Linked DNA regions of Homo sapiens. The protein of the gene in region 1 purifies or fractionates together with the protein of each later gene. This does not show direct contact. Each region holds a gene or a part of one and is shown in the gene's direction. Other genes may lie near its edges.

Region 1 (7,614 bases):
AGGGGTCTCTGCTAGAGTTGTTTGTATGTACAGCAATTTTGAACAAATTGTTTTAAATGTAATATAAGAGAATTAGTTTAAGGAAGTAAAGAGAATCATTTGCTTGTGTTACATTTTCAGTGAGGATTCAGTTTAAGAGTCATTCTTAGGACTTCCATTTCCTAATATTTATTCATGGGTAATGAAGAAATGGTTTGCATTTTGTGGCCAGTCCTAATTTATTTTCCAGCTGAGCCCTAACTTCCGGCTCCCACCTACCTCCACGGACTTCCTAACAGAGACTTATGAATACCAGGATGTGTTTTTGTTAAGTCAGGTTCAATTCGTTGCCCCTGTCAGTTTTATAGAGTGTGAGGGTCACTCCATTAAAGATCTCTCCTGGGTGGATCCTACTTGGATGTTCAGGTGATTTTGAAAACTGCTAACATTTTTAAAAGGCTAGAACATCCTTTGACTTCTTGAAAATCTGCATGTCTGGCTTGGGTTTTATTACCACATGCCTGAGTTCTTCAAGAATGGAAGGCTCAAGTATTCTCATCTTCCATTTGCCAAACTTCCTTCCTGATTTGAGTCACGTGTTCCACTTGGAAAGAAAGGGAACAGAGAGCCTCCTCCATGGACAGTGTATGAATTTCATTGGGAATCTTGCTCTCTCCCGCCTCTATGCCTTTCTCTCTTTTTAACCTTACTTTACATAATATTATAGATGGGCCAAGAAAAGAAAAGATGACATAACATTTTGATGAATTTCACCTATTCCATTCTTCACGTTTCAGAATTGGTCGACTTTGTTAGAAGATAATTGAAGTAGCCTTGGGTCAAAAGCAACCTTTTCAATTGTGATCATACCTAAAACATATAAAAACCCTGCCGTAGATTAAAAGCAATTATAAAATCATAAAATTGAATGTTTGCAGAATCCTGGAGCAGTAGATTTCTTTGTCTTTGGCCTGCGGACTAGAAAGAGGGCAGCAGTAGTATGCTGGAGCTTCCCTGGGATACCAGCCACATGGTTTCTTTTCATTAGATCTGATTTTTGTTTCCCACTGTAGATCTGATTTTGTAGTTGAAAACATTTCACCACCATCAAACACTATTTCTGAATATTGTGCCTTTTTATACCTAGCCTAGATGAAAACCGATGCCATTCTTATTCAGAAAATCCCCCCATCCTACATGACTGTTATCTAGACATAAAGCAAAGTGCATTTAATTCAAAATTTGGTTCACAATATAAGTATTTTGTAAAAGCCAGCTGAACCAGCATTTTATCAGGTGGAAATCTCTGCAAGCCAAATTGCTGATACTCCTTCATGCAGATCAACTTGGTGTCCCAGTCAGAATAGAACAGCATAATTACCTGGAGTTAGGGGGAGTATTTCTGCACTATTACTTGTCAGGGAGAGAAGAAACTTAGAATTGTCCCTCAAAGGAGTGTCAAGAAGTATGAATAAATGTCCTTTCACCAGCTCACAGGCCAGAAATGGAGGACCCAAGTCAACTAGGTGAAACTACTAGCAGACCCAGCTTTCCCATAATAACCTAATCTGCAAATTGTTCTATTAAAGTCTCATTGTTTTCAGGATGCAATGAAAGTGGATTTCAAAAGGCTTTGGAAAAATAAGTGGAACATGACTGATCTTGAAAAAAAAAGCAAAAGCTTAAATATTTGATACAAGTTTACTTAGCTACAACATACTTTACATTGTTGCCTTTAGTTATCTCACAGGCACTGACATTTTATATTTAGAAAATACTTTTAATCTTTCTAATCTTTTTTTGTAAATATTAGTGTCCATTCTGTATGACTCGCTAACCTACTTTGCAAGGCTTTGGGCAACATTTTAGCTCATTAACTTCAAGATGATGTGTCATCTGTATAGGTCAAAGAATGGGACTTCTGAACTGAGGAATTTGCTGTTGACAGCCAAAGTATAGTGTACAAGATTGATGTAACTTGATATGTATTTTTGTTGAAGTTTTTTGTAAAAAAAAATTATTTACAATGTTATTTGAATGATTTTTTTAAATGCTGTGAATCTATATTTGTTGTTTTGTATATTAAAATTCATTTGCCAAACTCGTTCTGATGATGCATTTGAGTAGCAGCCTTTAAAAGGAGGAAGTGGAGAGCTGGGTGCGGGGGCTTCTGGGATTTGTAGCTCCTCTGCTGCCCTGATGTCCCTAGACTTCTCAGTGGCAACAACTCATCCATTCAGGAGCTCCATGTAACCACTGGGTAGGCGTGGGAGAAGGGGGGCTCCGAGGGCAACCTCGGAGGGCACCCTGGCTTGAGAAACGTCAGTGGTTGGAGTAAGAGGGATGCGGAAGGGAGCAGTGGGGCGGGGCCGCTTTTGCTAGGGATCATGGAGAGGAGACAGAACAACAGACTGTGCCCTCTGACTGCCCCTGAAGGCTAGGCCCTGCCACAGGAGCTGTGCTAGTGGCCCTGCTCACTCGCCCTTTGCGGGTGGGTAGATTAGAATTTCCTTCTCCAACAGCTCAGAAGAGCTAAGTCAACAGCCCATTGTTTGCTGTGGCTGTAATCAGAAAAGGATTCCTATGAAGGCTGCCAAGTGGCTACTGCCCACTTTTTGTTTACTCTTAATATCCACCTGCTTCCCAAAGTGATCTGCTCCTCCCAACCTTGGGCTGCACTGGGGAAGGGCGGTCGCTAGGGTGGGGAGGGGGCGAGCCCCAGAACCCATAGGGCAGAGCATAGTGGCTCCATGTATAGGACACAGTGAAAGAGATGGGGGTGGCATTTTCTTCCAGGAGAGTTGTGGGGAGATGACCGTTAGGTCATAAGCGCGCCCCTACTCTGCACTGGCGAGACCAGCAAAGCTGGAGTGAACCCAGCTGAACCTGGGCCGCAGCAGCCCCGGAGGCTGGAGGCGCTGCAGTCGGGAAACACCAGGAGGATGGAGCCCTTTTCCCTGTAAGCAGGAGGCCAGGATCCTGATTCCTGAGCCGGCTTCCCACGGACCCCAGGCCCCGGCAGGGTCCTGGCGGGAGGAAGAACCCACGGAGTGAGTGGGGTGTCAGCAAAGCGGGGCCGCAGGGCAGGTTCTGGAAGCCTCTCCGCGTGGCTGGGCTGGAGTGTGCAGACGTGGGAGAGCCCGGAATGGGGAGCGCGTGGCCGGTGGAGGCCCGAGGCTGTGCTTCCGTCGCTGGCTCTGAGGCAGAGGTCCAGGCCGGCAGGCTGCCCAGGTGGTCCTGTCTCAGAGCTCTCCGGGGCGCAGAGGCGCGGGAAGCGGGGAAGGGCCGGGCAGCGAGACGGGTGTCCCCAGCAGGAGGTCGGGGACCCGTCGCGCGTTCCGTCGGGGCCGCCTGCGGTGCAGGGGTCAGAGACCAGCCACGCGAGCAAGAGGGAGCCCGGCCAGAACTGCTGAGAGCCCCCAGCGGAGCTGGGACTCAGGGGCTCCTTGCGTTTAGCCACCAAGAGTGGGGGCAGGCTGCGGGGTGCCGGGGAGAAGCCAGATCTCACTCATTTTACACCGACTAATTAGATCCCGCCGCCCACCTGGGACCACGGCATTGTCATGTCCGCTGCACTGACGGGGAAATTGAGGCACGGGGGCGAGTAAGGCGGGAGAGGGAGTCGGCGCCGCCGAGCTGGGGCGAGCCCCGCACCCACCCGTACACTCGGCCTCTGCCCCTGCTCTGTGCGTGGGCTCCTGCTCTGTGCGTGGCCTCGCCGCCGAGCTGGGGTGAGCCCCGCACCCACCCGTACACCCGGCCTCTGCTCCTGCTCTTTGCGTGGCCTCCTGCTCTGTGCGTGGCCTCTGCTCCTGCTGCGTGCACTGCGGCATCTCGGGAAACCGGGCTGGGCTCCTCTGTCCTCTGGAAGCTACTGTAAGTTTTAGATAAATGTTACTACTAGACACGAGGAAAGTGAGTCCATGATTACTGGCATTGAACAAATGGTTGCACCGCGTTCTCCGTGGTAGGTGGAGTGTGTGATTGTGAGAGGGGAATGGACACTGAATCCTTACCTACACAAATGCCTAAACTCGTAAGGCATTACGACACACCCATCTGAAAATCTAATTAAGCGGTAGGAATTCTAATGGTCCGGGATCCAAATGAGACCCAGCCACTTAACAGTTAGCAGCCTTCAGTTTTGTCCTGTTGCCCGTAATTACCCCAAGGTCAGGGAGAAGCACTGAAGCAAAGGCATGAACATCACTTTGAAAAAGAAAGGAGTTAATGGGTGCAGCACACCAACATGGCTCATGTATACATATGTAACAAACCTGCACGTTGTGCACATGTACACTAGAACTTAAAGTATTATATATATATATATATATATATATGAAAGAAACCTGCCTGGGGCACTCCTTCCTTCAGACTCCCCTTGAAAGTATTCCCTCATTTCATTCAAAAGGATTTAACTTTTCTAAACTAAGTGGTGCTGGTAGAATATGCTACCTGATTTACGTGTTGCTGTAATTCTTGAAGCTCTTCCAAGACATCTTGGCCTTCCTCTGTTCCCTCCCCTTCCTGCTATTTTGCAGACATATCCACTGGGGAATTGTATGGCAGGAAGGCTGATTTTATTTAGCTGGCCCTTGATTCTTGGTTTGCACAGTATCTGGGTCCAGCCTGCAGCCCTAGGGTCCAGGTAAGTTCATCAGGAAAGGATTTCTTTACATTCAATTTAAGCCATCTAGGTCCTAAAACAACGCTTATATTATCTGTGGGATAATCCTGCTTAGTTATTTGCAAAATAGTCAGATGTCTATACAGTTTTGGGTAGGAAAGGGGTAAGCCGCTTTCAAAATTCATTCTTGAGGAAGAGGCTAAAGAGGAGATAAAAGCAGATTTTGAAATTCTTCTGCTGGAACTCTGCAATTGGCTGGGAGGAGAGAGAAAAACCATAGAATAAGTCATAAGAATAGTGGGCTTTTTTTCTTTTTTTCAGATGTAGTCTTGCTCTGTCGCCCAGGCTGGAGTGCAGTGTCATGATTTCAGCTCACTGCAACCTCGCCTCCCGGGTTCAAGCAATTATCTGCCTCAGTCTCCCGAGTAGCTGGGATTACAGACATGGGCCACCACACCCTGCTAATTTTTGTATTGTTAGTAGAGATGGGGTTCCACCATCTTGGCCAGGCTGCTCTTGAACTCCTGACCTTATGATCCAACCGCTTTGGCCTCCCAAAGTGCTGGGATTTTTTTTGAGACAGAGTCTCACTCTGTTGTCCAGACTGGAGTGCAGTGGCAGGATCTCAGCTCACTGCAAGCTCCGCCTCCCGGGTTCACACCATTCTTCTGCCTCAGCCTCCTGAGTAGCTGGGACTACAGGAGCCTGCCACCGCGCCTGGCTACTTTTTTTTTTTTTTTTGTATTTTTAGTAGAAACGGGGTTTCACTGTGGTCTCGATCTCCTGACCTCGTGATCCGCCTGCCTCGGCCTCCCAAAGTGCTGGGATTACAGGCATGAGCCACCACGCCCGGCCTATGATGGATCTTTTTAAGAGAGCTTTCTAGAGAAGCTTATAGATTATTTTGCACAAATTTTAATGTGTACTTTTTTTTCCTGATCAGGTTCATCATATTCAGATTGTACACATTTTCATTTTTATGGCTATGCTAATTTACAGTGCAGGAAAAAAATAACTGTCAAGATATGTTGAAGAAGGCTGGGCGCGGTGGCTCACACCTGTAATCCCAGCACTTTGGGAGGCTGAGGCGGGTGGATCATGAGGTCAGGAGATCAAGACCATCCTGGCTAACAAGGTGAAACCCCGTCTCTACTAAAAAACAAAAAATTAGCCAGGCGTGGTGGTGGGCGCCTGTAGTCCCAGCTACGCGGGAGGCTGAGGCAGGAGAATGGCGTGAACCCAGGAGGCAGAGCTTGCAGTGAGCCGAGATCGCGCCACTGCACTCCAGCCTGGGCAACAGAGCGAGGCTCTGTCTCAAAAAAAAAAAAAAAAAAAAAAGATATGTTGAAGAAATGTATAAAGTGTGTAATATAGAGAGTGCATGGAAGACAATATATTCGATGAAGGCAGCCTAGAGCTATTTTGACTCTTAGATCGTCAGATCCGGGAGGGCATTCGTCCTTTCCAGTGCATGCAGGAGGAAGCTGAGGCTCTGAGGTTTGGAAACCCAGGAGATATCACTCAGCTGATTTCTAGCAGGTTTACATTAAATCTTAGTTTTGGAGAGTTAAGAATCTTGAGGAGTGATAACCTTGGCTGTAGAATTAAGGATATGATGTTCTTGGAGAAAATTAATCAGGAAGAGGGCACTGGGTGACCATTTATCAAGAGATTCTTTAGCAAAGGACAGATATAGGTAAAGAATCGGAGAATGAGTCAGAAATAAGTGAACTAAATAAGAACACTATTTTGGGGGGACTAAAAAACATTAACTTCAAAGTTATTTGCAGTCTGTGTCCCTTTGCCCTGACCATGCCAGTATGTCTGGCTCATGCGGTCACAGCATTCTGCAGAATGATGGCCTCTATTCTCTATACATACATATGATATCAATGTATAGAGATCTTGTCTTGATTTGTCCAAGGCAGTGACTGTTGTCGCTTTTTACATATATTACTGGGAGGGTTGTATGCCCAGTGAGTCCCCAGCAGCTGTCACTCTGGCTGACTACAGATGTCTGCAAGCCTCCTCACTTCTGAAGAGCGGCCGCACCTTGGGCAGCGCATGCCTTGAATTAGGATGTGGGCTCAGCTGTGTGTCAAGACCCCAAATAACAGTGGCTTATGCAAGATAGAAGTCTATTTCTGTTTCATATGCTTATGTCAAAGATGTGCTGGCAGGTCTGGTCTGTGGAGTCATCTGAGGCCAGGGGTTTTTCTATCCCCAAATTGTTGCCCTCCTTCAAGGAGTCCCACATGGTTCACCATGCCATGCACACCCCCCCACAGGAAGCGGGAAAGGGCACCCCCTTACCCTTTAAGGCCGGTCATTGCACACAATTACACGTCTCACTTTTGCTCATCCCCATGGCCCGTAATCTAGCTCATGGTCATACCCAGGCTGCAAGGGAGGCTAGGGAGTGCAGTCTATCATGGGCCCCTAGAAGCCCAGCTAAAATTTCTATTACTCTGGATGAAGGTGAGAAGGGGTGTTGGAGATTACTAGCAACTCCACGAAAGCACTGACAAGGATCAGAGTTGATACCCAGTCACCTTCCCAAGTGATGGTCCACACACAGTTGGAACCAGGATAGTATTTCTTGCATGCCTGCATTGATTCATTCAACAAATACTTGACTGAAAATAAGGAAGTAGAAAAATGCAGTCACCATCTTCATAAAGCTCTAACCCAGGTTGGTGCCTACTAAGTGATCATTAGTCTAGGTGTGGTGTACAGAGTAAGTGGGGACTGGGGAGGACAGTAATTCAGATGAGAGAGAGAGTGGATGATTGCAGGGAAAGATGGGAGACAGAAGAGGCTCCTAGCTCTAGTGCCTTCTGGGAAAAGACCAGACCCAGAAATTAAAAGTCAAGAGTGTAACTGTAGTTGAACTAATGAAACTGAGGGTCCAACCCATAGCTTTGTGAGAGGCACAAATGTAATTTTTTATTTTTCAAAATAACATTAATATAATTTCTTCTATATTCCTTGTGCAAATCCTCAACCTT
Region 2 (7,024 bases), on another chromosome or scaffold:
AAAACACTTGGAAAAGTATAGTACTGTAGACATGTAACAAAATTGCACTTGTGCCCTTTACATTTATATAAACATTTTTAAAAGTATTTAAGTTACATTTTGATCTTTACCAAAATTTACTCTTCAATTCAAGGGTTGTTTCTGTCTTGTACAAAATTGTATTGCATAGCTCTCTTTTTTTTTTCTTAAACTACCAAAGCAGAAAGGAGTTATCTAGTCTTAGATCCATTTTGAACTATGAAAAGATAAACGGTATTTTGACACTTACCTACATTAGTTAAAAGTGATTTTGCCTATTAAAACTTTAAGAAAGATCCAAATTATTATTATTATTATTATTATTTTTTTTTTTTTGCGACGAGTCTCGCTCTGCCGCCTAGGCCGCAGTGCAGTGGCATGATCTTGGCTCACTGCAAGCTCTGCTTCCCGGGTTCACGCCATTCTCCTGCCTCAGCCTCCTGTGTAGCTGGGACTACAGGCGCCCGCCACCACGCCCGGCTAAGTTTTTTTATTTTTAGTAGAAATGTGGTTTCACCATGTTAGCCAGGATGGTCTGGATCTCCTGACCTCGTGATCCACCCGCCTGGGCCTCCCAAAGTGCTGGGATTACAGGCGTGAGCCATCGTGAACGGCCCAAATGATTCTTAATTTTATGTCTCATTTGTTTGAATCATTGCTTCGTTACCCAGCAAAATAAAACAAATTAATTTATATAATTTTTATTAAAGCCTATCAAAATTATGGAATAGGCTTTTCTTTTCTCCCCCCCCCCCCTTTTTTTTTTTTTGAGACGAAGTCTCGCTCTTGTCCCCCAGGCTGGAGTGCAATGGTGCGGTCTTGGCTCACTGCAACCTTCGGCTCCTGGGTTCAAGCGATTCTCCTGCCTCAGCCTCCCGAGTAGCTGGGATTACGGGCTCCTGCCACCACACCCGGCTAATATTTTTTGTATTTTTAGTAGAGATGGGGTTTCGCCATGTTGGCCAGGATGGTCTCAAACTCCTGACCTCAGGTGATCCGCCCACCTCAGCCTCCCAAAGTGCTGGGATTACAGGCGTGAGCCACCGTGCCCGGCCAGAATAAGCTTTTCTTAAATCCTAATTACTTAAACTCTTAAAAAAATTTTTTTTCTGGCTGGGCACAGTGGCCCAGAGATTACAGGCGCCCGCCACCATGTCCAGCTAATTTTTGTATTTTTAGTAGAGTTGGGGTTTTACTGTGTTGGCCAGGCTGGTCTCCATCTCCTGACCTGAAGTGATCCACCCGCCTTGGCCTTTTAAAGTGCTGGGATTACAGGCGTGAGCCACCGCGCCTGGTCCCCAGGCCATTCTTTCTATTCTAAGTGTCTAGTCTAGTACTGGCATTGTAGTAGGCATCCATTAAGCTTTTTTTTGAACTAGATGATGATCAATATGAAGTTTTTTTATTATGACATTCTTACTAATTAAGTGCTTATTCTTAGTAATTTTCTTTGTCACGCTTTCAGGACTACAGGAATATGTGGAAGCTGTCTCTTTTCAACACTTCATCAAAACACGATCATTAATTAGTATGGATGAAATTAATAAACAATTGATATTTACGACTGAAGACAATGGGAAAGAAAATAAAACTGTGAGAATTTAAAATTTATTTCACATTTGTTATATAATTTATGTAACAGTATGACGATTCTAGTAGATTTACTGGCTTATGCTAAGATTGAGATGGGAATGTTCTTTCTAAAGTATGGTTTTGTAGAGTCTCAACTAGGAAATGGTCTTTTTAAATATTTCAGTTAGTGGATAGAACAAGAACAACTCTGGGCATATTGGGAAAGTAATGCTCTTTACCTAAAGCATTATGGAGTGCTTACTGTAAGTCCTCTTTTGGTTTTACTCTCTATTTTTCACTTGCCCTTTGTAAGCACTGTCTTATTTAATCCTTTTATTAACCATATGTGGTAAGCATTATTACTCTCATTTTACAGAGAAAGAAACAGACTTTTAGAGAGGTTAAGTAACTTGCCAGAAGCCACAACTAAAAAGTGTGGCAGAGCTAAGATTTGAAGTTAGGTATTTTGAATCCAAGCCTGTGCCCTTGTCCACTCTGCCAGCGCTTCTCACAGTGTGCTACAGGGATCCCTTGCATCAGGTACCTACCTCAAAGGGTTGTTTTAAAGGATTTGACTTAAAGGTTATTAATTAGGCAATATACAGCAGCACCTGACACGTAATATACATTATATACAGCACCTGACACGGAAGTGCTCAGTAGTTTGCCATTATAAAGTAGTTTTTATATAGTGAGAGCTGTTAATCATTTACTCAATTCATAATGCTTATATCTGAAATTTATGTAGCTTTTCTGAATTAAGAAAAACTTTGCAGTTTGACTTTTAAACAAATACTATTTTTTTCCTTCTGGGTTTCAAGATATAACAGGCAGTAAGGTAAGCTGTATTGACTATTTGATACTTTCTGAGATACCAGTACACTTAAAATTAAATATTTTAAAATAATTTATATTATTTAAATAATTGTTTAAATATTAAATTATTAAATTATTAATTTAATTTACTAAATATTAAATATTTAATTATTTTAAAAATTTTCTTTATTTTTTCTTTTAAAAATTATTTTTAAAAACACCATATATTAAGGATAGGTAGGCAGGAGATGGAAGACACTGTAGAAATAATATTTTCTTGAATATCAACTAAAATATTAATACAAATGAGACTAATTTGGCATGACAGGTATAACTTACTTTAAGGAAGCCATGTATTAACTTTAAGTTATATGAAGTGTATTAAGGAGGAAATTTATTTTGAGAAGTAAAATTTCTTCATATTTTTTATTCATATAGTGTAGACTGAATTACACAAAGAAGTAAAGTAGGTCTATTTGACCCTGCTTCTCACGTGATATTAGGGAAGTTACCACACTTTCCTTTAAAGTTCTCTGTGTATCAAAATGAAAATATTGGGGAAAAGGCCAGAAAATTGAGAGTCAAAGTACTGTTTTCAGGACTTAGGTACCAGATTATTTTAAGATTATGGGGCTATAATATTCATATACATGTTTCAAATTGTATAAGACTATGTTCATAAATAAGTTTTAGTGCTAAAGATGCTTGGTGCTGAAATTTCTGGGAATTTGATTGGGAAAGGTATTTTGCTCTGACTTGCCTGTTGAGAATATTGTCAAAACTATTTAATTTTTATTTTAAAAAGTTTTGTGAAAAATTTCAAACATGCAGAAAAATAGAATGGAAACATTAGTGCCACTAACTAGCTATCATATTCCCATAGCTCAACGTCATATTACCTGTGATGTTTCTCGGACCTCATTTCTCATGCTAAATGATGAGGACGTTGCACCAAATGGTCTCTGCAGAGTCCAAACAGTGCTAGGATTCAAGTATTAGATACATAGCAAAGAGTGATCTTAATAAAGCTGTCTCCCTTGTCTCAGCTTATATTTATGTAACTTCCTTTAAACTTTACTCAAAAGAATTATCTCATTAGTTCCTCAAATGCACAATTCTTACCTGTATGCCTTTGTAGTTCCCACTACCTAAAATGTCCTTTGATGTAACTGCAACTTCACCTACCCTTTTATACATACCGTCTTTTAATAACAATTTAGGCATCGTCTCTACCAGAAAGAATTCAGTAGAGGGAAATTGATGTGGAGAGAGATTTCATGATGATATCATGATAGCAGCTAGCATTTGTTGAATATTTACTTTGTGTTGGGCATTATGCCAAGAACTTGGTAAATGTTCTCATTTAACCCTTAAAATAAACCTCTGAGGTAGGTACTGTTATCCCATTTTACAGATGAGGAAACTGAGGTTTAGAGAGATGAAATAACTTGCCCAAGGGCATACACCTTATGAAGCAAGGTCCTGGAAGAGGTGGGAGGAGATGGGTCAAGGTCATTTGGAAGAGTTAACCTCAAACAAGAGGAGGGACAACTCATCATCTGAGACTGGAGGATAGAAGGTAAAGATGGGTGTGGATATAAATTTTTTTTTTTTTTTTTTTTGGTAGGGATAAAGGCAGTTGTGAGAAATTGTGCTAGGTAAGCTGGCAAATGACCAGGTCACTGAAATTGGGCAAGGTTGTCTACTGAAAGTGAAGAGGTTTGGGATTTGAGTAGAGCCCTGAGGAGAGTGGTGAAAGGTTTGAAATTGTGTTTGAAGAGGCTGGAAAGAGAACCATCTAATGATAAGTAAAAGGATTGGAGAGTAATTTGTAGCGGTACAGACTCTGCAGTTGTGATTACCATTTTTTTTTAACTCAGTGAGTGGTACTCAGCCACCTGAATAAAGGACTAATGAGTATATTTTAGTATTGATTGAGGATTCTGTTTTTGCTGGGTAGGTGCAGTAGAAAATATAGCAGTCTAAGGGAATTGAGGATGCAGTGAGAGAATAATAAATTGTGATGGTGAGTGCTGAATAGGGAAAGACAAGAAGCCAGAAAAAGACTGAGCTTCTTAGGAAAACATTAATGGATCACAAACTTGGAGGGCTGTATGGTTTTTCATTTAAGAAAGTAATTGTCGTGCAATAAAGTTATTAAGCCTTGTTCAAGAATATTTTTATTTTGTACATCAAGTGGAGTTGGAAATAGTTGGTTTCATAATGATATATTTCAAAAGTATCTTGAAGTCATCTGGTTCATTTCACTACCCAGGGCACACATTCCTCCTGTAACATCCCAAGTGGTTATTAAGCAAAACAGATTTATTTTATTTAGAAAAAATTAGTATGACTGATTTGCTATTGATTTTGTACTTCTATAATAAATGTGATACATGCTATATTCACTCTTTTTCACAGTGTTCTTTCTTGTGTGTGTGTGTGTGTGTTTTTGTTTTGTTTTGTTTTTTTACCAGCCCTCCTCTGATGCACAGGATAAGCAGTTTGGTACTTGGAGACTGAGAGTCACACCTGTCGATTACCTTCTGGGAGTGGCTGACTTAACTGGAGAATTGATGCGGATGTGTATTAACAGTGTGGGGAATGGGGACATTGATACCCCCTTTGAAGTGAGCCAGTTTTTACGTCAGGTTTATGATGGGTTTTCATTCATTGGCAACACTGGACCTTACGAGGTTTCTAAGAAGCTGTATACCTTGAAACAAAGTTTGGCCAAAGTGGAGAATGCTTGTTATGCCTTGAAAGTCAGAGGGTCAGAAATTCCAAAACATATGTTGGCAGATGTGTTTTCAGTTAAAACAGAAATGATAGATCAAGAAGAGGGCATTTCTTAGAATCTAACGTTACTCAGTTACTAATTCTTTTGAGAACTCCTAAGAGACCAATTTGTAAGACTTATTTAGTATTTCATTTAACTTTATTGTGGCTTTTACATAGAAACATATTCAGTTGTACTTGTTTTAAATTGTATACAAGCTGTACATAAAATTAGCCAAATGAATCATTTCTTATATCTTATTCATGAAAGTTTGCATACAGATGTTTGCATATATGCCTTTTTGAATTTTTGCTGGTTAACCTTTATCATTTATCTTTGTAATGTGAACATGCTTCAGAGTGTACCTTTTGCCATAACCTATTTTAATTTACTTTTTCTGAAGTTTGGAGTGATAATTTTTAGTGGAAGCAATTTGTAATTTAAGTTGGTAGTTATATTATATATAGAAAAGATTTTTTAGTTAAACTTCTGGACATGAGCGTCCTGTTTAAATTTCTTGTTAATATCGTGCCAAGCCTCAAAAATAGGCTTATTCCATGGAACAAGAATTAAAAATGAATAAGCTATCAATATATAATTTAAGTACAAGTTTAGGCTGGGCGTGGTGGCTCACGCCTGTAATCCCAGCACTTTGGGAGGCCGAGGTAGGCAGATCACGAGGTCAAGAGATCAAGACCAGCCTGACCAACGTGGCGAAACCTCGTCTCTACTAGAAATACAAAAATTAGCTGGATATGGTGGTATGTGCCTGTAATCCCAGCTACTTGGGAGGCTGAGGCAGGAGACTCGCTTGAACCTGGGAGGCAGAGGTTGCAGTGAGCCGAGATTGCGCCACTGCACTCCAGCCTGGGTAACAGAGCAAGACTCCATCTCAAAAAAAGAAAGAAAGAAAAAAGAAAGTACAAGTTTATAAAGTATTATAGTGAAAAATTCGCATTCTGGCTGATTTTAAGCCATTTAAAATTTATATAAAACAACCTTCCATAAAAATTTGACAGGTGCCCAGATGTTGCTTTCTCCATTTATTTTTTGTTTTTTTTTAATCACAGTAGGTCTGATAGAGAATTGGAGCTAAATTATAATATTTTTGTTGGTAAAGTTGAGTTATATACTTGTACATACAATGGAAATGCTTTTAGTAGTGATTATTTAGCAATTTTTGTTTTTGTTATATTAGGCATGTTTGGAGGCTTTCCTATTCTAGCATTTAAATTTAAATTTTATTAAAATTAAATAATTTAAATCTAGCATTTAAATTTAAATAATTTAAGTCTAGCATTTACTTTTAAATAATTATAATGAAGTTTTGAAATACTAAGTTAATCCAGACCTTTAGTTGTCCCATGGTGTTAATAAAGTTGCCAAAGAAGATGTATTATGAACAATTCAGCAATAAGACAATTGTCAACACAGTTGAGAATAACAATGGTAATCGTTAGTAATATTTAGAATTGGAATTTGCCTACTGAAATAGTTATAGATGATTACTTGTGATGTGAAACTGAATTGAGCATGACAACCAGACATTTCCAGTTGGTTTTGTAAGTTTTGAGAATCTAGATACTGGGTTTTATTTTTTGAAAGATTAGCTCTGTTTGTAAGGGCTGATTCCTTGAAAATGTAATTTTCCAGAAAAACACCTAAAGAAAATAAAACATGGACATGCCTAGTAAATTCTGTTTTTTTGTTTGTTCGTGTTAGTGATGGTGGGTTTTTTGGTTTTGCAACTCACCTGTAGTCAACTCACTACAGGTGAGTTGGTGCCATTGCTACTGATATATCTCCACAGTTCATGTCATACTAATACTGTGGGTGTTA
Region 3 (7,099 bases), on another chromosome or scaffold:
CCGTCATGGGCATCTGGATGGTCAGCTTCATCCTCTCCACACTGCCCTCCATTGGCTGGCACAACAACGGCGAGCGCTACTATGCCCGCGGCTGCCAGTTCATAGTCTCCAAGATCGGCCTCGGCTTTGGCGTTTGCTTCAGCCTCTTGCTACTTGGGGGAATTGTCATGGGTCTGGTCTGTGTGGCCATCACCTTCTACCAGACACTGTGGGCCCGGCCCCGGAGGGCTCGGCAGGCCCGGAGAGTGGGGGGTGGTGGGGGGACCAAAGCGGGTGGGCCAGGGGCCTTGGGTACCCGGCCAGCTTTTGAGGTACCAGCCATTGTGGTGGAGGATGCCCGAGGGAAGCGGCGGTCCTCGCTGGATGGCTCGGAGTCTGCCAAGACATCCCTGCAGGTCACCAACTTGGTCAGCGCCATCGTCTTTCTCTATGACTCACTCACAGGGGTGCCCATCTTGGTGAGATCGGGGTCCTCCCCACCTGTTCTCCCCAATATCCAGGCCCCAGCATCATCACCTGACCTCCAACTTCATCAGCCATACAGCAGCTCCGTCATCTCTCCTCCAGTTCCATCATCCATCTTCCTCTCCTCTGTCCATCCCCCACTCCATTTGTGGCCCCCATCTTGATCATCTGTCTTTTAGTTCCCACTACCCTGTTTACCCCAGCTCCAGCATCTGCTTCAGTTCCCACTCCTCAGCTCCATCACCGTCCTTCAGTTCCACGACCTGTCCTCCAGCTCCGTCATCCATCCTGCAGCTCCACGGTTCAGCCGCAGACCTCTCATCCAGCCGCTGGGCTCCACTCTCCATTCCCTCCTTCCCTCGGGCTGCCACATGGTCTCTGAGCACTCTTGGCTGGAAATCCCACAGGGCTCACCCCACCACCCCATCTAGTCACTGTTCCTGGGTTCCTGTCTGTCTCTACGGTTCCTGGTCCACCTCTGTTCCTCTCCCTCCTGACCGCAGGGCTTTGTCTCCAGCACTCTCCCCGACCTTCCTCTGAGTCAGTCCCTTCCCTCTGTTCACTCCATCTCCACCTCCGGCTTCGCCTCTGTTGGAGCACAGGGATCAGGCATTACTTCTGACGTCTTGCCCACCAGCTGCACTAGGATATGGGGTTCAGGTGGGCTCCTCAGCTCTGGCCCTGACCCAGCCCGCTCCCACCCTTCCCCAGGTGGTGAGCTTCTTCTCCCTCAAGTCGGACTCGGCGCCCCCCTGGATGGTGCTGGCTGTGCTGTGGTGCTCCATGGCACAGACGCTGCTGCTGCCCTCCTTCATCTGGTCCTGCGAGCGCTACCGCGCCGACGTGCGCACAGTGTGGGAGCAATGCGTGGCCATCATGTCTGAGGAGGATGGAGATGACGGTCAGAGGAGGGGCTGGGCTTTGGCTTTCCTGGACATCTGTCTATTCCCTTTTCTGCCGCTCCTTCTCAGCCAGAGGATGGGCTGCCCTGGAGTGCCCCCTACTGGACAGAATCTGCACCACCCTGGGCTCCCCTTTCCCTAAGCAGGCACCCTGCTGTCCACTCACTGCTTCCCGCAGCACTCAGGGCTCCCTTCACTGGGCCTAGGCTCCCCTCCAGAAACCCACACTGCCCAGCTCTGGCACTATGGGGAACCTGAGCTTCCCGAGAGAGGCCCCCCAGCTATAGGGACGGCTCTTGGGGGAGTGCAGGCAATTGTTTCAATAACTTCATCTATATGTATGAAGCACTCCACTCAGGATTTAGCACTGAACGCAGCAAATGCTAGCCACTCTCACTGTCCTCTTGGAACATACATGCTAATGGGAACTAAAGGGGTCTCTGGGAGCTTATAAAGGCAGTGGTGGGAGGCCGCGGTAGGCATTCCCTACCTGTAACCACTCTGCCCATTTTCTCTCCTAGATGGGGGCTGTGACGACTATGCAGAGGGCCGAGTTTGCAAAGTTCGCTTTGATGCTAACGGAGCCACAGGACCAGGGAGCCGGGACCCCGCCCAGGTGAAGCTGCTGCCTGGAAGGCACATGCTCTTCCCTCCTCTTGAGAGAGTCCACTACTTACAGGTATGGAACTGGGGGATACATCTCCTACCCTTGGTGCCGCTCATCACTTTTCTCCAGTGTCTGTTAGGCACCCCAATCCCCTCTTCCCTAGCCCTGGCTTTCAGGGCACCATAGAGCTGGGTGAAAGAAAGCTATAGCAAGAGAGGCATCCCTTCAGACCTCGTGGGGCCAGGTTTGCCCACCGGAGCAAACGTTTTGAAGGTTAAGAAGGTGGCACCATCTTCCGGAGTCCCCACTTGGTTCCTGCCTCTGCCTCTGTCCCTGCAGCACCTTCAGGTCTTACCCGCTCCTCTTCCCAGGTCCCCCTATCCCGGCGTCTGTCCCATGATGAGACAAACATCTTCTCTACCCCTCGGGAACCAGGCTCCTTCCTGCACAAGTGGTCATCCTCTGATGACATCCGGGTCCTCCCAGCCCAGAGCCGGGCCCTCGGGGGTCCTCCTGAGTACCTGGGACAAAGACACAGGTTGGAGGACGAGGAGGACGAGGAAGAGGCTGAAGGTGGGGGGCTGGCCAGCCTTCGCCAATTCTTGGAGAGTGGGGTTCTGGGGTCAGGTGGGGGACCCCCACGGGGTCCTGGCTTCTTCCGGGAGGAGATCACCACCTTCATCGATGAGACACCTCTGCCTTCTCCGACTGCCTCACCAGGGCACTCTCCTCGTCGGCCCCGGCCACTGGGCCTCTCACCCCGCCGACTCTCCCTTGGGTCCCCTGAGAGCAGAGCCGTTGGACTTCCTTTGGGACTAAGCGCAGGGAGACGCTGCTCCCTGACGGGGGGTGAAGAAAGTGCAAGGGCTTGGGGAGGATCCTGGGGCCCAGGCAACCCCATCTTTCCCCAGCTGACCCTGTGAGCCCAAGCAGGCCTGCTGAACTCAGAGGAGAAAGCCTGAGTGAGTAACACCTCATTCTGGCCGAGAGTAGGGCAGCTGCCTCCAGACTCTGGGGAGACGGGCGCTAGATTTGGGGCTCAGAAGGCCCTGCTCTCTCCCATCCAAGTGACCAGATGCCCTACTCAGCTTCCATCACCCCTAGCAATATGTATTAAAGTCTGAAGTGTTGCCATGGAAACCTCAGTGTCCAGTGTACTGCGGTGGAAAGGGGCTTGGAGGGTGGAGTGGCTCACAGGGGACACGACAGAGCAGGGGCAGCAGACAGAGGCACAGAAGGACACATGGAGAAATGATCACATGCTCCACCAGGCAGCCTCGCACAGGGAAGGCTGGGAGGAGCATATCCTGCTGGGGGCGGGGCTTGAGGACACACATCTTCGTTGGTTGGGGTATGAAGGATCTCTGTTCAGATTTGTTGAGGTGGTTTTAGAGCGTGGCTCCAGCCCCAGTGCCCAACTCTCCTTCTAACCTCAAATCCATGCAGGGGCTCACTTTATGGGCAGGAAAGGTTTTGGGGCTGATGCAGTGTCCCGGGCCTGGACACCTCCTCCTTGCTGCATTTTAAAGCTCTTTCTCCAAAGGAGTGCAGGGGTGGATGAGTGTGTGTGTGGGCGGGGGTGGGAGTGCAGGGGTGGATGAGTGTGTGTGTGGGGGAGTGCAGGGGTGGATGAGTGTGTGGGGGGGGTGGGAGTGCAGGGGTGGATGAGTGTGGGGGGGTGGGAGTGCAGGGGTGGATGAGTGTGGGGGGGTGGGGGGGGGCGAGGGGGGGATCGGCGTCCACACTCCTTTTTCTGGACCCAGAAGCGTGTGTGTGGAGGGAACACAGCCCCAGTAGTTACCCCCAGACCTCAGGGGCTGAAGTCACCGCTGGGGCTGAAGTCATCCTTCATGGATGCCCAGGCCTGCTCCAGTTCCCGCCTTTTGCCCTCCTCCTCCCAGTTTCTCCCTCTTATTCCACACTAGACCAGCTTTGTCCACTCAGCACTCTTCTCTCTCCATCTTTTCACATGGGCCTCTCCCACCATCGGGTCTCAGCCCCATCTTCTCTCTCTCTCTCTCTCTCGGCCTCCCTCATTATTTCTCCCTCTCCCTCCGCCTCTCCATCTCTCCTTCCTCCCCCTCCCTCCCCTTCCCCCCTTTCCTCTCCCTCCCTCTCGGCTCCCGCATTTCCCCTCGGCTGCCGGCGGCTCCGACATCATGCTCCGGCTCCTCCGGCCGCTGCTGCTACTGCTGCTGCTGCCTCCCCCGGGGTCCCCTGAGCCCCCCGGCCTGACCCAGCTGTCCCCGGGGGCGCCCCCGCAGGCCCCCGACTTGCTCTACGCTGACGGGCTGCGCGCCTACGCGGCCGGGGCTTGGGCGCCGGCCGTGGCGCTGCTGCGGGAGGCGCTGCGGAGCCAGGCGGCGCTGGGCCGGGTGCGGCTGGATTGCGGGGCGAGCTGCGCGGCCGATCCGGGCGCCGCGCTCCCCGCCGTGCTTCTCGGGGCCCCGGAGCCCGACTCCGGGCCGGGACCCACGCAGGGGTCCTGGGAGCGACAGCTTCTCCGTGCAGCGCTCCGCCGCGCAGACTGCCTGACCCAGTGCGCAGCACGGAGGCTGGGCCCCGGGGGCGCGGCGCGGCTTCGCGTGGGGAGCGCGCTCCGGGACGCCTTCCGCCGTCGGGAGCCCTACAACTACCTGCAGAGGGCCTATTACCAGGTGGGGAGCGGGCCGGGCAGCTCCGAGGGTCCCAGCCCTCACCACGACGCTGTCCTACTTTGCGTTGCCCAGGAGTAGGCGGAATGCTGTTGCCCGGGCCCCGCACGGGGCTGGGGAGCGTACCGCGGGCCTCTGCGTAGGAGCTGGCTAAGCGACCGCGAGGACCTCTTGAGATCGCAGAGGAGCAGCCGAGGGGGAGTGCGAGCAGAATGGGAATGGGGCGGGGAGGTCGTGAGGTGGGACGGGAGCAGATCGAAGATGGAGGGACAGGGCCGCCTCTTCCTAGGAATGAAGCGGAGGCGGTGGGGGCGAAACCGGCTCTCGGACGGGAAGTGTGCGTGGGTGTGTGTGTGTGTCGGGGGTGGTGGTGAGTGTGAACCTTCGCTTGGGGCAGGAGGTAGCTTCGGAAAGGAAGGAGCAGACGGAGGCAAGGTTGGGGTCCTCCGAGGCCAGACCTCTGCGGGCGGGGAGGGGACAGCACGCCGCAGCCGCCGGTACCGCAGCAGTTGCCTACGTGGCTGGGGAAGCGGGGCGCCGGTTGTACTCACCTCAGCTCAGGGTCCTAGAGACCTGCGGGTTTTGCTGGTCGCTGAGGTCTCCCCCACTTCCCCACCTCACTTAAGCCATCACTTCCACCTGGTCTCCCAAATTGAGGTCCTGAAGTCCTGAGACCCATGTCCCACCCAACTCCGACGTCTTTAGATCCCCTTTCCCTCGGTGCCAGCCTTCTGAGAGTCCCAACGTTCTGGCCTCTAGGGGATCTGCAGTTCGGGCGGTGGGCGGTTCTGATTGGCCAGTCTTCCATGAGGCTCTGGGGCACCCAGAGTGTGTGTCTGGGGTAGGGTGGGGAGGCTGGCCAGGGGGCAGAGGTCTGCCCCCCGTCCCAGGGCTCTGATGCCCTCCTCCCTTCGCCTCCTCAGTTGAAGAAGCTGGATCTGGCAGCTGCGGCAGCACACACCTTCTTTGTAGCAAACCCCATGCACCTGCAGATGCGGGAGGACATGGCTAAGTACAGACGAATGTCGGGAGTTCGGCCCCAGAGCTTCCGGGACCTGGAGACGCCCCCACACTGGGTGAGAATCCCAGCACCACCCCTGTCTTGCCACCAGCCTTTTCCTGGCTGGATACACAGGCCTCACTAAACTGTGCGTTGTGCTGCTTGAGCATACAGATGGGGTAATGATCCTCAGCGACCCTGGCTGGGAGTCCTTCTCTAGGACTTCGTTTCCTTCCTGGATGATCACTGAAATCTGATGTTCTAACATTATGATTCTGAGGCCCACCCTTATTCTTCTCCACGGTGAAGAGGGACATGGAGTCCTTGCCCCAAATGAGACCAACACCCCTCTCCTCTCTACCTCCCAGTTTGGCAACCCCTGGATCTTAGGTGACTGACTGCTCCCTTCCCCAACAGGCAGCCTATGACACTGGCCTGGAGCTACTGGGGCGCCAGGAGGCAGGACTGGCACTGCCCAGGCTAGAGGAGGCTCTTCAGGGGAGCCTGGCCCAGATGGAGAGCTGCCGTGCTGACTGTGAGGGGCCTGAGGAGCAGCAGGGGGCTGAAGAAGAGGAGGATGGGGCTGCGAGCCAGGGGGGCCTCTATGAGGCCATTGCAGGTAAGGGTCCCGTGTGTGAGGGGGTGGGTCGGTGCCCAGGGAGGGGCATGAACAAGCTGAATGGCTTATGGGTTTCCTCTGCAGGACACTGGATTCAGGTCCTGCAGTGCCGGCAACGCTGTGTGGGGGAAACAGCCACACGCCCTGGTCGCAGCTTCCCTGTCCCAGACTTCCTTCCCAACCAGCTGAGGCGGCTACATGAGGCCCATGCTCAGGGTCAGTTGGGGAAGGGTGGAAACGGGGAGTGAAGATTTGCCTCTGCTGCTATCCTGAGCTCCATCTCTCTATCCCTCCCATCTGTCTCTGGATTTGTAGTTTCACTGTCAGGGCTGCATGGGAACCATCACTTCACAAGGACTCTAATTTGCCCTCCTTTGGCGCCTGTGACAAGCTCAGGAGATGGGCTTCCTTCTGCCTTGCTGCTTCTCACCTTCCTTTATTTTCCCCCCTCTTGCTCTTCTTTGAACTCTCCAGCTAAGGTATGTTTGCACCAGTGTTTGAAAGAACCGGCAGCTGAACTTGTCTGCCAGTGGGAAGGGGGCTCTTGGAGTTAGCTGTCTGGCCTCTGGAGACCACCTTCTCCAGCACTGCCTCTGCCCCAAGGATCAATGTGCTCTAAGTATTCATCCCCCAACCCCTGACCTTGTCGCTCCCTCTCCAGTGGGCAATCTGTCCCAGGCTATAGAAAATGTCCTGAGTGTCCTGCTCTTCTACCCGGAGGATGAGGCTGCCAAGAGGGCTCTGAACCAGTACCAGGCCCAGCTGGGAGAGCCGAGACCTGGCCTCGGACCCAGAGAGGTAATCCCCTCTCCACGCTCACCTGGGAGGTAGCCCCAAATCAAACAAATAGAC

What was found.
Region 2: the proteins of C1QTNF9 (region 1) and TSNAX purify together in Homo sapiens (affinity purification with mass spectrometry; 3 studies listed by BioGRID and IntAct, with this or other methods). This does not show direct contact.
Region 3: the proteins of C1QTNF9 (region 1) and P3H3 purify together in Homo sapiens (affinity purification with mass spectrometry; 4 studies listed by BioGRID and IntAct, with this or other methods). This does not show direct contact.

Annotation. Positions count from the first base shown.
Region 1 is NC_000013.11:24,304,990-24,312,603, forward strand, and holds the start of C1QTNF9 (complement C1q and tumor necrosis factor-related protein 9A precursor), read left to right. Parts: upstream 1-4,590; 5' UTR 4,591-4,627; intron 4,628-7,614. UniProt on the Homo sapiens protein: Probable adipokine. Activates AMPK, AKT, and p44/42 MAPK signaling pathways.
Region 2 is NC_000001.11:231,559,645-231,566,668, forward strand, and holds the end of TSNAX (translin-associated protein X), read left to right. Parts: intron 1-1,483; coding exon 1,484-1,611; intron 1,612-4,883; coding exon 4,884-5,261; 3' UTR 5,262-6,880; downstream 6,881-7,024.
Region 3 is NC_000012.12:6,824,308-6,831,406, forward strand, and holds the start of P3H3 (prolyl 3-hydroxylase 3 precursor), read left to right. Parts: upstream 1-4,099; 5' UTR 4,100-4,133; coding exon 4,134-4,631; intron 4,632-5,551; coding exon 5,552-5,704; intron 5,705-6,045; coding exon 6,046-6,247; intron 6,248-6,331; coding exon 6,332-6,463; intron 6,464-6,908; coding exon 6,909-7,045; intron 7,046-7,099. Other genes in the region: GPR162 (probable G-protein coupled receptor 162), read left to right, coding at 1-458, 1,177-1,366, 1,889-2,046, 2,346-2,897. UniProt on the Homo sapiens protein: Part of a complex composed of PLOD1, P3H3 and P3H4 that catalyzes hydroxylation of lysine residues in collagen alpha chains and is required for normal assembly and cross-linkling of collagen fibrils.